Linked DNA regions of Homo sapiens: region 2 is reported to be linked to region 1. The links are microRNA targets in miRTarBase. Many come from high-throughput screens and were not tested one by one. Region 1 holds a microRNA gene; the other region holds the end of a gene's coding sequence.

The links. Region 1 holds the annotated microRNA hsa-miR-182-5p (UUUGGCAAUGGUAGAACUCACACU, at 5,112-5,135, opposite strand). A microRNA usually pairs through its seed, bases 2 to 8, with sites in the 3' UTR of a target mRNA and lowers its output. Matches are read on the target gene's strand: a 7mer-m8 pairs with bases 2 to 8, a 7mer-A1 pairs with bases 2 to 7 and ends in A, and an 8mer does both.
Region 2: the mRNA of NUP50 is a reported target of hsa-miR-182-5p. Seed matches in the 3' UTR shown: 7mer-m8 at 6,223-6,229 and 7mer-A1 at 3,489-3,495.

Annotation. Positions count from the first base shown.
Region 1 is chr7:129,765,336-129,772,599 of GRCh38, forward strand. It overlaps MIR182 (microRNA 182), which reads right to left and starts at 5,157; the gene lies at 5,048-5,157. It overlaps LOC105375501 (a long non-coding RNA gene), which reads right to left and starts at 3,870. Exons shown (of 3, transcript XR_927963.4): 1 at 3,353-3,870; 2 at 2,552-2,623. RefSeq lists an enhancer at 5,308-6,171.
Region 2 is chr22:45,183,910-45,190,909 of GRCh38, reverse strand. It overlaps NUP50 (nucleoporin 50), which reads right to left. Exons shown (of 8, transcript NM_007172.4): 8 at 2,893-6,457. The coding sequence ends at 6,255. LOC105373064 (a long non-coding RNA gene) reads left to right here. Exons shown (of 4, transcript NR_146602.1): 2 at 365-408; 3 at 710-993. Among named protein-coding and RNA genes, the nearest start is that of MIR1249, 14 kb to the left of the region's middle. RefSeq lists an enhancer at 1-41.

The DNA of each region.
Region 1 (7,264 bases):
CTGCCTGCCTCAGCCTCCCAATTATATACATTTTTAAATGCCTAGATTATGGCTGGGGAATTTAGGGAGTTGTGAGAGGCCCCAACTTGGGTGAGGAACCAGCCTCGACATAAACTTAGGATTGTCATGCTGACAGGGCATCTGATCTGGTCCCCACCTGAGGTTGGCATCCCACTCCAGCACCTTTGCTTGGCCATCTCCAGAGATGGAGGGTCCAGACCCGAGGCCCTCATTGGTGCAGTCAGGAAGCTCTGTGTGATGTATAGAACATGCCTGTCTGGGGTCGGCTACTGCCCCTGCTTCTGCTCTCTTAAGTCATAGAGAACTAGAATTCTTTCAACTACTTGAAAATAACCTCACATTACCACCCAAATCTTTCATAGCTAAAATCTCCAGTTTCCATTTTTCCTGGAGATGGGTGAGTTGTTTCCAGAAATGGAGTGAACTGGAATTTCCTGAGTGGCCCCCAACGAAAACCAAAAATCCTGGATTTTATGTTTTGAAACGTCTTCCAATGCACAGCAATATAGCGAGTAAGCCACAGAAGGGACCTGGATAGCCAGACCATCTCTGGTCTGGTCCAGCGCACACCACAGCACGGGTGCCCTCCAAACTGAGCCCAGACTGAGGGATAACGTCAAGGGCTTCACAACCTTCATCTCCCATGATTCTCCTCCAGGAATCTGCTGCTGTAAGTTGGCTGCAGCCTGTCCTTCCAAGCACCACACTTTGCCCCTGTATTCCTCCCCCTGGGACCTGCTCTTTCCCCCTTCTCTCTCTACTCAGGCTCAATGTAGGTGGCTCCCTCCACTCAGAGCCCATGCACCACCCCAGCCCTGGAGGCCATGCCTTTCTTCAGCCCCAGCACCTCTTCCTGTCTGTACTACATGCACCTGCCCCATCCACACTGCCCAGTGGGGCTTGTAACCGTGCCCAGCCCAGCTCCCGCGTTGAGCTGTGTGTACCAGGAGGGCAGACCCATTGGCATTGGGTGCCATGCCTCCTGCAGCAAGCCCAGCCCTTTGCTGTTAGTGTTTAACAAGAATCTTGATGGGGGCCGAGCGCGGTGGCTCACACCTGTAACGCCAGCACTTTGGGAGGCCGAGGTGGGCAGATCACTTGAGGCCAGGAGTTCGAGACCAGCCTGGCCAACATGGTGAAACCCCATCTCTACTAAAAATACAAAAATTAGCCAGGCTTGGTGACAGGCACCTGTAATCCCAGCTACTTGGGAGGCTGAGGCAGGAGAATTGCTTGAACCCAGGAGGTAGAGGTTGCAGTGAACCAAGATCGTGCCAGCACACTCCAGCCTGGGAAACAGAGCAACACTCTGTCTCAAAAAGAAAAAAAAAGAACAGCTGAGTTCATCCCTAACAGCCTCTTCCCCTGCAGGAATGTTGGATGCCTCTTAAAAAAAAAAAATGAATATTGGTGGACTTAATGCAGCCATCTTCTTTCTGCTGGAAAGCTGGTCTTTGTGGAAACCTCTCACATGTGGTTTTGATGGTACTTTGTGCACACTTACTCTGTGCTCCAAAAGGTGCCCGGGCTCCAGCTGCCTGACCTGGAGGAGCTGCCTTGTGGAGCCATCTGTACGCCCTAGGCCCTGACACCAGGGCAGCCCCTCCCTTTTGGAGGTCAGAGCCAGGCAGGCCTTCCTATGACCTCAGGGGGCCCATGGGCTACCCATGCACGAGGGTCCCTTCCACTGCGGGAACTGAGACTCTTGGGGGGGTGACAAGACTTTCGGAGATGCTTGAGGTCAGAGGTTACGCAGAGTGTGGAAGTCAGAATGCATCACCCAGGTCTGGAATTCCACAGCCTCCCTGCCACATGCCAGGCCCCATACCAGGCCAAGGCCAGCCCTGGGCATGAAAGTGTGAGTGAGATACAGCCTGGACCCAAAAAGCCTCCACAGTTGATGGGTGAAGCTGACCTACTAACCTCAACCCTCACCCCTAGCCCTGTGGTTTTAGCACTGGCAGGCTGGGAAGGTGTGTGCAGGGCATTTGAGACATGCTGCCTTACCAGCTTCGAAGGGAGGAAGAGCTGGCGGGGAGGGCAGGCCACATGAGGAAGGCGAAACAATTTCTTCCTGGCGAGCAGGAAGACAGGTGGGGGGAGCAGGAGGGTAGTTTGCATGGCAAGGCTGGGTCATACCAGGCCCCATAAACCAGGTAAGGCGCTTGGGCTTATCCCAAGGGAGAGGGTGGGGATACTGTGGTCAGATTAGCTCAGAGGACGGTCAGTGGAGCAGGGCAGGACAGAGATGGGGAGGTGGCAGTGGTGACGGCAGCTGGGACATTCCATTCCGTAGGGACCATCCCACTGATCAGTCCTGCCTTCCCACCACCCTGGTTCTAGCTCTGCCACCCCCAGCAACCATGTATCCTAGGGAAAGGCAGAAGTCTCTGCAGGGGCTAAAGGGGCACCAGGGAGAAGGTCAGGGTCCACTGGCCACAGTGCAGCCCCCTCCCCTGGCTGTGTGGCACGGGGCCTGCAGCCTCTGGGAGCAGTTGCCAGGGCCCGGGTTCCCTGCTCCACCACTCACCTTGGCTATAAACACTTCATTGTCCTGATCCTGTTTGCTCATCTGTGCGCTGCCCGTGGTTGTGAGGATTCACTGAAATCATGAAAATGTAGCACAGTCTGTGCTCAAAGATCAATAGCTTTACTGTGACTCAATCTGCCCAAAGCCCCCAATTTCTTCTTCAGCGCCCACCCTGCTGAGGCCCCATAATAATTCTATTCCTGCCAGCATGGAGCACCAGCAGCTGTACCAGCCAAATGAAGCTATGTGGGTCGGGGGACAAAGATGATGCAAGGCTCCTCCACGCCAGCTTGGACTATAAAACGCATTCTAATCACTGACCTTACCTCCATGCTTAGCACTTAGCAGTACTTGGGCACCGCGATTATGCTGCTGTTGATCACTACACTAAACCGTTCAGCCCACATCTCCTGGTTTTGTTATTTACAAGCTTAAGAACAGAGAGCAGGCCGGGCGCAGTGGCTCATGCCTGTAATCCCAGCACTTTGGGAGACCAAGGCGGGCAGATCACGAGGTCAGGAGATCGAGACCATCCTGGCTAACACGGTGAAACCCCCGTCTCTACTAAAAATACAAAAAATTAGCCAGGCGTGGTGGTGGGCGCCTGTAGTCCCAGCTACTCAGGAGGCTGAAGCAGGACAATGGCGTGAACCCGGGAGGCGGGGTTTGCAGTGAGCCGAGATGGCGCCACTGCACTCCAGCCTGGGCGACAGAGCAAGACTCAAGTCTCAAAAAAAAAAAAAAAAAAGAACAGAGAGCAGAGCCGTTTCAGGCCCTGGTCTCTGGCAGACCCCTACTCACCTTCCTGGGCATGTATCCAAGGTCCTTCTCCCATGGCACCTGCTTCCTCTGCCATCGTGGACTTAATGGCCAAGTCCAACTCCTCCTTTCATTCTGCACACAGCCACAAGAGCCATCCAACCAGAACACACATCTGATCACACCCCCTCTGGCTGCGTGGCTCCCATGGTCCTTAGGTTCGGGAACAAATGCAGCCTTAAGATGGCCAGCCTTCCAGCCCGGCATAGACCCCAGGAAATCTGTGTGCTCTCCAACAGGAGTCTCCTCCTCTCCCTGAGGGTCACTCATCTTCCAGGACTCCCCACCCCTCCCTGTGTCCCAGCAGGTGCCGTGTGGCCCTAGCTCAGAGCAGCCTTCTTCATGCCCTGCAGAGCCAGCCTGTTTACGCAGCGTCTGCTTGTGCTCACGGCATGTAACATGCATAGTGCAGCCTGCGGGAGAACAGTTCCCTTCTCTTTCTGTCTCAAGAGCTGCCGGCTCAGACCTTCCCTACTCGGCCTGTGTCTCCCCAAAAGAGCGCAGTGAGCTGCACGGAGCCGGTTGAGCCTGGAGCCACCAGATAGATGTCTGCCCCGCCCTGCCCAGCCACAGGGGTTGGTGGGTCATGGAACCACACATGACCCTCCGAGGGCAGGTGAGGAGAAAGGAGGGCTGATGGGGGCTGATAGAAGGGGTTTGGGGGATGGGGAGCACCAGAGAAGGAAGGCTGGCAGGCCGAGGGCTGGGGAGCAGGGGATAGGCCTTCACATTTGCATTTGCACCGTTCACTGCGGGCTAGGCCACACTCACACACACACTTACACCTGCACCCACACCCTCTCAACCACACGCGCAGCTCCCACTCTGGCTCCTGAGCCATCTGCAGGCCAGGAGACTCCAGGGCCGGGCTTCCCCAGCAGGTCTGCCCACCAAGCCCAACTCTCTGGGAAGTGCCACTCACTCTGACCCTGTGGCCCGGCTCCGGCTCAGGGGAGCTCCCACTGCAAACACAAGCTCTGGGAAGGTGAGTGGAGGCTTTGTCTCAGGTTCTGAGGCGTCAGGAGGAACAAATCCATGAAGTGGAATGCTGGAGGCATAGAGGTCCAGCCCATGGGCCACCTGCACCCCAGGGGGCCAGTCCCGCATTTACACAAGTGACTTGTACACTCTCCTCCTGCACATCTCTGGAGGCTTATCCCATCTGGCCCTCCATGGCCTCAGCAGGATCACTGGATGTCCGTGATGCACGGCGTGCCCTCCCTGCCCTCATCCTCCCAGCCAGCAGCCCAGGAAGGAACCACTCTTAGTGACCTGTGGAAGGTTAGGAGACCCTCCCTCGGGGCCCTAGAGCCCACCCTGAACAGGGCCTTTCAGGGGAGAGGGTGAGAAGGTTCACCACCCAGAGGAGCCAGGCCAAAGCCCTGAAACCAAACATCCCCCAGTTCCCTCACTCCTCGATTCAGACTCCAGGGCCACAGCCTGGAGCAGAGCTGGACCCCAGCTCCTCTTGGCAGCACCCCTGAGGGCCAGAGAACGGCTTCCCAGCTGACTTGAGGACCTGTGACCTCAGGGGGATGCAGGGAAACACAGAGTGTCACTTCCAGCTGCACCTGCCCTCTGCCACTACCCAGCAGTCCGGGACCTGAGTCCCCTCCTTCCTCGCGGAGAACAGCAGGTCCAGCATGGCCGGCCCTTCCCTCGCTGGCTGTGCACAGGGTGCCGGCTGAGTCCTCGCCCCATAGTTGGCAAGTCTAGAACCACCGGATCCTGTTACCTCACCAGTGTGAGTTCTACCATTGCCAAAAACGGGGGGAGGCAAGCAGCTCCCCCCAGGAGCTGGGGAGGCCTCGGTCTGTGCTGAGGAAGAGACAGAGACAGTTAGGATGGTCCAGGCAGGGCCAGGACAGAGGCGCCCATCCCCGCAACTGCGACAAGGTCCTTCCTGCAGGGTCGCCCTGGTGTGGAGGCCCAACCCCACAGTCCCCCTTCCTGCTGGTCCCGGTCCCTCCTCAGCCCCCTCCTCTCCTCCCTTCCCCTCATATCTGTAACCTGCAGTTCCTGTGGGCAGGCATGGAGCAGACACCATCCCTAGGGCAGCCACCAGGATCCAACCCAGGCCCTGAGCTGTGGTCACCACTCCCAAGGGAACCCGAGGGCACCTCCACTCCCAGCACCTGACAGCAGGGACTCTGGGAACCAGCACAAGCCAGGCCAGAGAGCCCTGCCCCTGGGCGCTGGGGAAGAGATGGCTAATGTGGGCTGGGTTTTGCTATTTACTAAGCCCACGTCACTGCTCCATTTAATCCAGAGAGATGCTCCCAAGCCATTCCCTAGAGCCTAAAGCTCACAGGCTGCCCACCCCAAAGGGAGAGAGGGAAGTTGCTACACAAAACATTCCTCCTCCCTATCAAGTCCAAGGGAGGAAGAGCATTCCACTTGCCAAGGCCTCTTCCCTAAAAGCAGTGGACAAACAATGGCGCTGGGACCTTCTACCCAGGAACGGGAACAGGCAGCCTCTGGGGCCATCAGTCAGTGGCAGGAATGGGCCAAGCTAAAACCAACCAAATATCTCCCATCCAGACGGCACTCTCCTGACCACAGAACCCACTGCACACACCCAGCAGCCCTGCACACACCCAGACCCTTTGAGGGCTGGCTGCGATCTGATTCTCGGAGTGGCATTTCCCCAGACCGCCAGTCACTTACCCAAGGGCAGCACACTTCCGTGTTCCCACTTCCCCTGATGAGGCCAGGTCCTTTCCCAAGGGGTGTTGAAGTGTCCTGAAGGCATCTCAAGCCTTTAGCAAGGGTGCAGGCTGCCTGCCCCCAACCCTGCATCCCCATGCCTCCCCTGCAGCCTGGAAGGGACTCTTTGCCCTCAAGCCTCCTGGGCAGTATGGGCCCACCATGAGCAGGCTCATTTTCCGAACATGCCCCGGCTGGGGGAGCAGCTGACTTGGCAGGGCCCCCAAAATGACACCGCTGCCGCCGCCACCGCCACCACCCCTCCCATCCTGCCTGCCCTTTAGGGTGGAGTGAGATGGGATGATGGCTTAAGATGCAAACAGATCCAGGCCATCCCCAGGGCCAAGTCCAGGACCTCGGTGGCACCCAGACCGGACCGGCAGCCTGGGCTTGGGCGCTGGGGAGGACACCTCTGCCCGAAAGGAGAGGCTTGGTGGGGAAGGTTTGGCCTCTGAGCAGAGGCACGACTCTGGAAGCCTCTCCGAGGGTGGGCGGGCCTGCTTTGGGACATCAGCAGCACTGGGCTCTCTTGGTCCCATGGAGCCCCCAAGCCTGGGACTTGCTGAGGAGGCCACTCCCACCCTCCTCCAGTGTGTATGTGGGGGGTCCTGTCCTCCTCCCCACCCAGCTGTGGCCGCACCAGCCGGGCTCCATCGGCAGCCTGGGGCTGCAGGCGATCAATGGTGCCGGATCGCATTTCGACCCGCCTGAGGCTGGGCAGAGGCTGGGATAATGGCCTGGAATGAATAAGCAAATGGAGTGGTGGGGGAGGCGGGGAGTCTGGAAAACCCACTCATACAGCCCTCCAGGGAGCTGCCCCTCCTGCCGCTCCACGCACCCAGACAGGCCAAGCAAGGTGCCCGACATGGGGGACGCCCTAAACCCGGGCATCTGGGAGCCGCTGCTTTTGACAAACAGAAAAACAAAGCAAAAAGTGCTTCTCAGTGACCCTCCCGCTCCAGCAAGAAAGGCCTTCGCTGCAGTGGGACAGCGTTCCTGCCTGACACTGGACACCATTGGACAGATCATGGGCAGAACCTTTTGCCCATCTCACAGACCTTCTGGAAGCCACACAAGGGAGGATCCAGGACCTGTTCTGCAGGGTGGGGAGGTGAAGAGGGGCCCTCTCCTATCCTAAGTGCCCCCAGCCTGGGTGGTAGGAAATTGTGTCTTTAGGGAGGAGGGCCA
Region 2 (7,000 bases), not on the chromosome of region 1:
GGAAGCTGCCTGCGGGAACCTCATTCCTATTCATTGCCTCCTCTTGGAAGGCTAATCTGCTATTTCGGTTCCTTTAGCCTTAGATGAGCTTTTAGGAAGTACTGTCATGCCCTAGCTTAGAAGGAAAAAAGGTAACTGGAAAGGAAAACCTTTGGGAATCTTACACTGGGAGGAGAGGGGAATGTAACTCAATCCATATAATAACACAGTTCATTGTAAATAGACATGTTGACTGTGGTAACATGCTGTACTTTGTGCCTGATTGTTAAAATGCTAAGAACAGCTGGAAAATTTACATGAGGAAGAGAAAATACTTGTTTCTGGGGATAAAGAAAGGATCATGTTGTCTTTTCTTTCCTTACAGTGTCACTGAATTGCCCCTGACTTAGCCTCTCCATCAGCCAACAGGTTAGAGAGTTCTTTCCTCTGTGTGGACTGGGGTCTTTCCTCTTGGAATCTGATTTTAATGAAACAATTAGGTTGCTCATTTTGAAATAACCATGGCTTTTAGCCAAATTTTATGCTACTCTGAATAAACAATTTTGCTTAAAAGATTTTAGCCACTTCCAGAAGCCAGTGCAGTTGAGTAATTTAGTGGGCACGTATATCTCACTTAACGTGGCACGCTGGGGAGAGGTGTGTGGGGCTGGGACCTCAAGCTGCACCACCTCAGACACACTTAACCCTGGGCCTGGGTTTTCTCAAGTAGAATCACCACTTTCCTTCCTGGGACGCGACGATGTTGAAGTGAGACAAGGTTACGTCCAAAGGCTGGCATAGTTGCTGGCAACGCTGATCACTACTGCCATTTCTTCCCGGCGTGTGCAAGGGGTATTTCACGGGCCATCTTTGGAGTCATCGGGAGTGCATGTGCCAGCGGTTCCCAAATGTGAGCATGCCTCAGGATCACCTAATGCACGCTCTAACCCAACGTTCAAACCCAGAAGACCGGTGAGGAAAATACTTTGGATCAGTGATGACGGCTGCACCACTGTGAGTATACTAAAAGCCACTGAATCATGTACTTTAAAGGGGTGCAGTTTATATGAATTCTATCTCAATTTTTAAAAATGGGCTCCAACCTGAGGCGCTGATTCAGTAGCCTAGTTGGGGCCCATGGGTTAGCCTTTTGTGGGGGGGTGGATGGGCACGGACAGGGTCTTGCTGTCACCCAGATTGGAGTACAGTGGCGCAACCACGGCTTACTACAGCCTGGATCTCCTGGGCTTAAGCGATTCCTTCCACCACCATGCCCAGCTAATTAAAAAAAAAAAATTTTTTTTTTTTCTAAAGACAGGGTCTTGCTGTGTTGCCCAGGTTGGTCTCTAACTCTGGGCTCAGCAATCTTCCCACCTCAGCCTCCCAAAGTGCTGCAATTACAGGCGTGAGCTACCTCGCCCAGCCGGGTTTGATTTTTTTTTGTTTTTTTGAGATAGGGTCTTGCTTTGTCACCCAGGCTGGAGTACAGTGGCATGATCACTGCTCACTCCCTGGAGCCTCCACCTCCTGGGATCAAACCATCCTCCCACCTCAGCCTCCCAAGTAGCTGGGACTACAGGTGCATGCCATCATGCCTGGCTACATTTTGTATTCTTTGTACAGCCAGGGTTTTTGCTATGTTGCATGTTGGGGACCAGCCTCAACACCACCCGTAGGGTACCCGAAGTCTGGTGGCGACAAAGGATTGAGAAGAGACAGGTTAAGAGTGAAGGTGGGAGCCAGGGGGCCAGTTGCAAAATGTGGAGGCTGCAAAAGGCTTAGAGCTCTGGTCTCCACACTATTGAGTCCAATCACTTAGATTTAAGCAGATGTTCGGGGCGAAACAGTGGAAGGGCGGCGGCGCGTCACAGGCATCATCTACGGCAACAGCGGTTTCAACGAACCTCCTCTGTGCTGCTCAAACAGCGTATCTTTATCGGAGAGTAGCTGGTGGGAGCGGGCTTAACTCGGAGCCTGCACGTCTGTCCGCATTCCAGTGTTTCAAAGGAGTGTCTCTCTCCTTGAACACAGTGTTTACAGATACGAGAGCAGGTCTCACTCTGAGCATGGGAACATGATGGCAATTAGGAGGCTCTCCTCCTCAGAGACCTCTTGTGGCTTTCCACAACTTAGTGTCCTGTATTTTTATGGCCAGTTTATACAGGCACCCCACAAGCCCTTTTCCCAACAGTTGCACAGGCTGGTCTCAAACTCCTGGGCTCAAGCGATCCACCCACCTCGGCCTCCCAAAGTGTTAGGATTACAGGCGTGGGCCACTGGGCCCGGCCGGGCTTGCATTTCCATCAACTTCTTATGTGTCAGTCCCAGGACCACTCTGAGAACCCAGGTTCTAGCCCAGCCATGCAGCTGAGTATCTAAACAGGGCTGCTGCGGCTCAGGTGCAATCTTCCTCTTCAGATGACATTCTCTTAGTGTCATTTAGTTTCTATTAGATGTTAACGGTTCAGGAAAATACTTTGATGGATAACTTAAATCTTTGCAATATTATTTTTTTAAACCAGAAAATACCCCTTATAAACCAAATAAATGCTGAGTAACATAGGAAAGGTTAAAAAATAAGTCTCAAAGGTTTGCTTTGAGGACTAACCAAGGTAATACATATAAAGCACCTAGCCAATGCTTTGCACACTAGCCCATTAAGGATCAATTGTTCCCATTCCAATCTGTTAAGATTTTAATCCAACAGAAACCCTTGGTCTGAATGGTTTAAAAGTAGTCTCGGCCCCCAACAAGGAGTCTGATAATAAACTGGTCTCTCACTCACCTCCAAGCTGACCTTCCTGTTGTTCAAGGAAGTTTCCGGTTGCAGCTTCTGCGTTGATTCTTCTTCCTCAGGTCTGTCTGACTTGTATTAATGCCAAGTGCATCACAGAGGAACATAAGACTCACACATTGGGATTTTGTTTACTTTTCATTTATTCACATTTCATGGATTGTTACACTTCCTCGATGGGAGCATTCAAAAACTAATACAAGCTGAGATTATATTGTCTGACAATTCAAGTATTTTAGTTTTAGAAAACAATTTCCTATTTAAAGTAAAAAGCAAACAATTTATCCATCTGATTGCTAAGAAGTTTTACATCTCCATTACAATTGTGTCTGCATCAAACGGAGAGTCCTTCGTCCTCAGTATGATTGTTACTGGCTGAGAACATACGGTGACCTGTGTTCTGAGTGCCTGCTTGGAAAAGACCTCCCTGTCATCTGCCATACTACGGGACAAATCAGTATCTACTCAAATTCCCACTTCCAGAATGAGAGGACTCATCAGGGGTTTAGGAGTTTGCAAAGCCTTCAAAATGTATCGTGCTTGAATTTTGACTCTTCTGAAATAGAATAACTGACAAATGCTCAAAAAACAAACTTGTTTAACTTTTACTGAAAAGGCTCTCAGTGAAAACTTGTTTTGAACTCTACTAGTAAGGTAGAATATTAGTTTTTCTTCCCCTCCACACCAGAAAAGGCAGTTTTCTCTTTTTTTTTTTTTTGGCATGCAGCATATATAAAATGTGATCTAGAATTGAAATTGTAAAACAGAATAATCCTCTTAAAGAAAATCAGCCTATGAACAGTCAGACTTGTCCTTCCATGGAAAACATAATCTAAACTTCTTTAAAAACTGGCCATATTTTTTCAGTCTGTAATTCGAATAATGAAGATGGCATAACAAATTTTTTTGCTTACTAGGAATGCGCAAAAGGATGAGATGGATACACAGGTTTTAAAAAAAAAAAAAAAAAGGCCACTGGGATATTTAGTATTTGTCCAGATGCAAAACAATTTCAGAATAACAAAATACACACCTTGCTTTAGGCCACGTATATGATACACTTCATAGATTCTCAAACAAAAGATGAAAATTTCAGTCCACATTAAACATTTTAAAGCATAACTTCTAATATTTTGTTAAAAATAAGTCAAACTAAACGCATAAATCAGAATTACCTGTTAACATAGTGGGGAAAGTAGGGAAGCCCTCCAGGGGCCCCGTGCCCCAAGTAAAAGACAAGGAGTTAAATTTTACAATGAAATCCACGTATACTCAGGCTCTTTACACTAATAATCAAAGTGGAGACCAACCAGTTCCTAAAGCATAAAAGAGTGATTTTAAGAAAATATCACATTTTGAGTTACGGTATATTCATCACATTTTTCCCTGTAATTTTCACTTTAACAGTGATAGTCTTAGCAGCAAAAATTTGCTGGGAATGTTAGGAAAAAAGGAAGCCACACATACCTACTAATTTAAAAATATATAAACTATTTTTTACAGAAGGGCAGGTTTAAAAGAAAATCCAATCATGATCTTTTCATGCCATTTTTTGTCAACTTTCCATACACACGCAGACGCTAACAAAGTACTGTGTCATATACACTGAAGTGTCCTGAAGATGCCTGTGAGCTGCTGATTCCAGCTGGTACCAGGGAAGCATGTGTGGCTAAGTTGCAACAAACTTAAATTTGTTCCCCTTAGTTCTTCATCTTTTTAAAAGCTGAATAAACTTAATGTCAATCGGGTGGGGCCGGTATTAACAGCATCAACCGCTTGCTTACTATGAATCATCCGCAACAGAAACCCACGTGCATTCTCCATTCTTAAAAAGTCAGTGTAAAACTAACGGCCACTTCCTCCCTAGGTGCCTACTATCGCTATGTCTGACAGCATCTGTAACAGGACAAGCTCACCTCTCTCTACACGGATTCATCCAAAGCCACACACTAGGCCAAATTCTCCCAGTGGAATCAAAACACTGGAAGTAGAGCAAGAACCTCATGCCAACATTGGCCCAATCACACCTCAGTGACTTAGGAGTTCATCATATTTGATCATAAAATTGCTCCCGGCGCCAAACCTTACACCTAAAGACTGTAGTTTTAAAAAGCCACTGTACCGTCCACAATTATTCTGACCACTCTTTTCTAAATGGAGAATGTGCTACGCACTGAAGATCAGAACACACACGCGGGAGCCCTTGGGCACTGACCCTGAGCCTGTACACAAGATCAGCTGGTACTAGTCTCAAATGATTCATGAGGACTCAGTGGAAATTTAAACATTCAATTCTGTGTATCATTCATGTGCCCAGAGTCTTCAAAGAATGCTCGTGTTAGTTACCTGACACCTCTGGAGAAGTGACAGGGATATTCGTGTGAATAACCATGGCTCCCTTCCAGACAGACATATGGAATCTTACTCTTAAAAAAGTAAAGATATTTCAGATATCAAATGTATTATAATATACTGCGGTCTAAAGTTAAAGGCAAAGTTTACACACGATTTTCTCTTCCATGACTTTATTACATGTTTCCTAGTGAATTCACACGGCTCGTGTGTCAAAGCTCCCAGGCACGTCACTTGGTCACAGTTTTCATGTGCGTGGGGTTGATCATGGTACAAATGCCTATGCGCATCTTTTTCTCGGATGGTCTCATTTGACTTTCATTTCGTAAGGGTTCACTCTCCATGGTGTAGATGATAAGCTACCACATTTGTGCTTTTAAACCCATTCCTGGCAATCCCCCTTTATCTTCATTTTGTCTTTAGGGGGATAAAGAAGTAACACTACCTCATGAATAGAAACTATGAAGCCAAAAAACTCCTTCACAAGCTGTTCATTTCTTTTTAGAATGAAAATGCAGGTCCTGAATTCTCGTGAAGCAGCCCACAGGGTTACAGGCCAATGATTCGAACGCTGAGGTGAACACTTAGTACTCGCATTTGAGCTTCAAAGTAAAAATAAAGCAGAGGACAAACGCCTGTCACAGCGTGGCAGCCCGGTTCATTTGGTAACAGAACAAGTCTCACACGTCGGCTGAGCCCACCGGAGAGAAGCACACAGGCCAGCTTCCTTCTGAACACAGCCAGGCACCTGTTCAAAAGCCTCTCTCGTGGTGGCGGTGGACCCCAAAACCCACGGGTTGGAAGAGCCTTTGGGAAAGCAAATTGATACCCTGATTGCAGTCCTTGAAGAAATCACTTAGGGTTAGTTTAATAAACGAACATTAAAAAATCTTCCAAAAATTGCATTCAAATGTATTTTACACTTTAGGCAGTTCTTAAGAAGGGAGAGTGCAGTTTCTTGACACTTAACATTTAAAGGTTTTATTGGCCACATTAATCTTCCTCACAAAAGTTTTAAGTTATCTATAAGTTCTTAGAATGTCAAAGAAGAGAAGAAAAACTGACTAACTTTAAGGGGCGGTGGAAGCAGCAGCAACTTGGCAATAATTCTGCAGCCGACTTTGCGTGTTCAGGCATCCTTTTTCTCCAGTAAAATTTTGTGCAACTCGTCTGCATCCTCGCTGGTTTTTACCCGAATCAACATGGTGACTGGCATGGTGGCATTCTTCTCGTCAATTGGTGGATTTGGAACACAGACGATAAGAACGTTATTCTTCCCTGTTCGCGTACATGGCATATTGGGTGGAATCAGAACGTTCAGCAATATGTTGCCTGCATTCAAACAAACAAAACCCATCAAAATTATAGAAGCTATAGCTCCACCAAAGGAGTCTGTAATATGCTAAACATTAAATGCTGAAATAACTTAATACATCTAAGACAGGGAGCCAACAGGACAGCACAAAATCAGGACTGGTTCCCTGAGAACTGGGAGGCCTCGGGGAGCACTTGCCCTCACTGTGAGGAGTGGCCTTCCGTCCTCCCTCCAGCCCGGGTCTCTGCACCCACACAGCGTTTCTCTCAGAGCCAGCAGCCTCGCTCAGAACCGTCAGCCCTCTCAACACTGTCCGTCTTTGCACTGAAGGAAGAACACGGTGGCACAACCCAGTGTCTTCACTGCGCCACACGGACAAAGGACACCTCTGTCACAGGCCGGCACAGCTCCCTGGGCAAAAGTGACACGACCATGTTATTACTCCCTAGTCAAGCCCACGGGAAAGAAAAATGCCTCCCTGGAGTTTCTGCAACACAGCCCCCTGTTCTCTACCACTACTGCCCGCTCCACCGCAGGCCTGCCCCGTCTTCCTCCTCCTC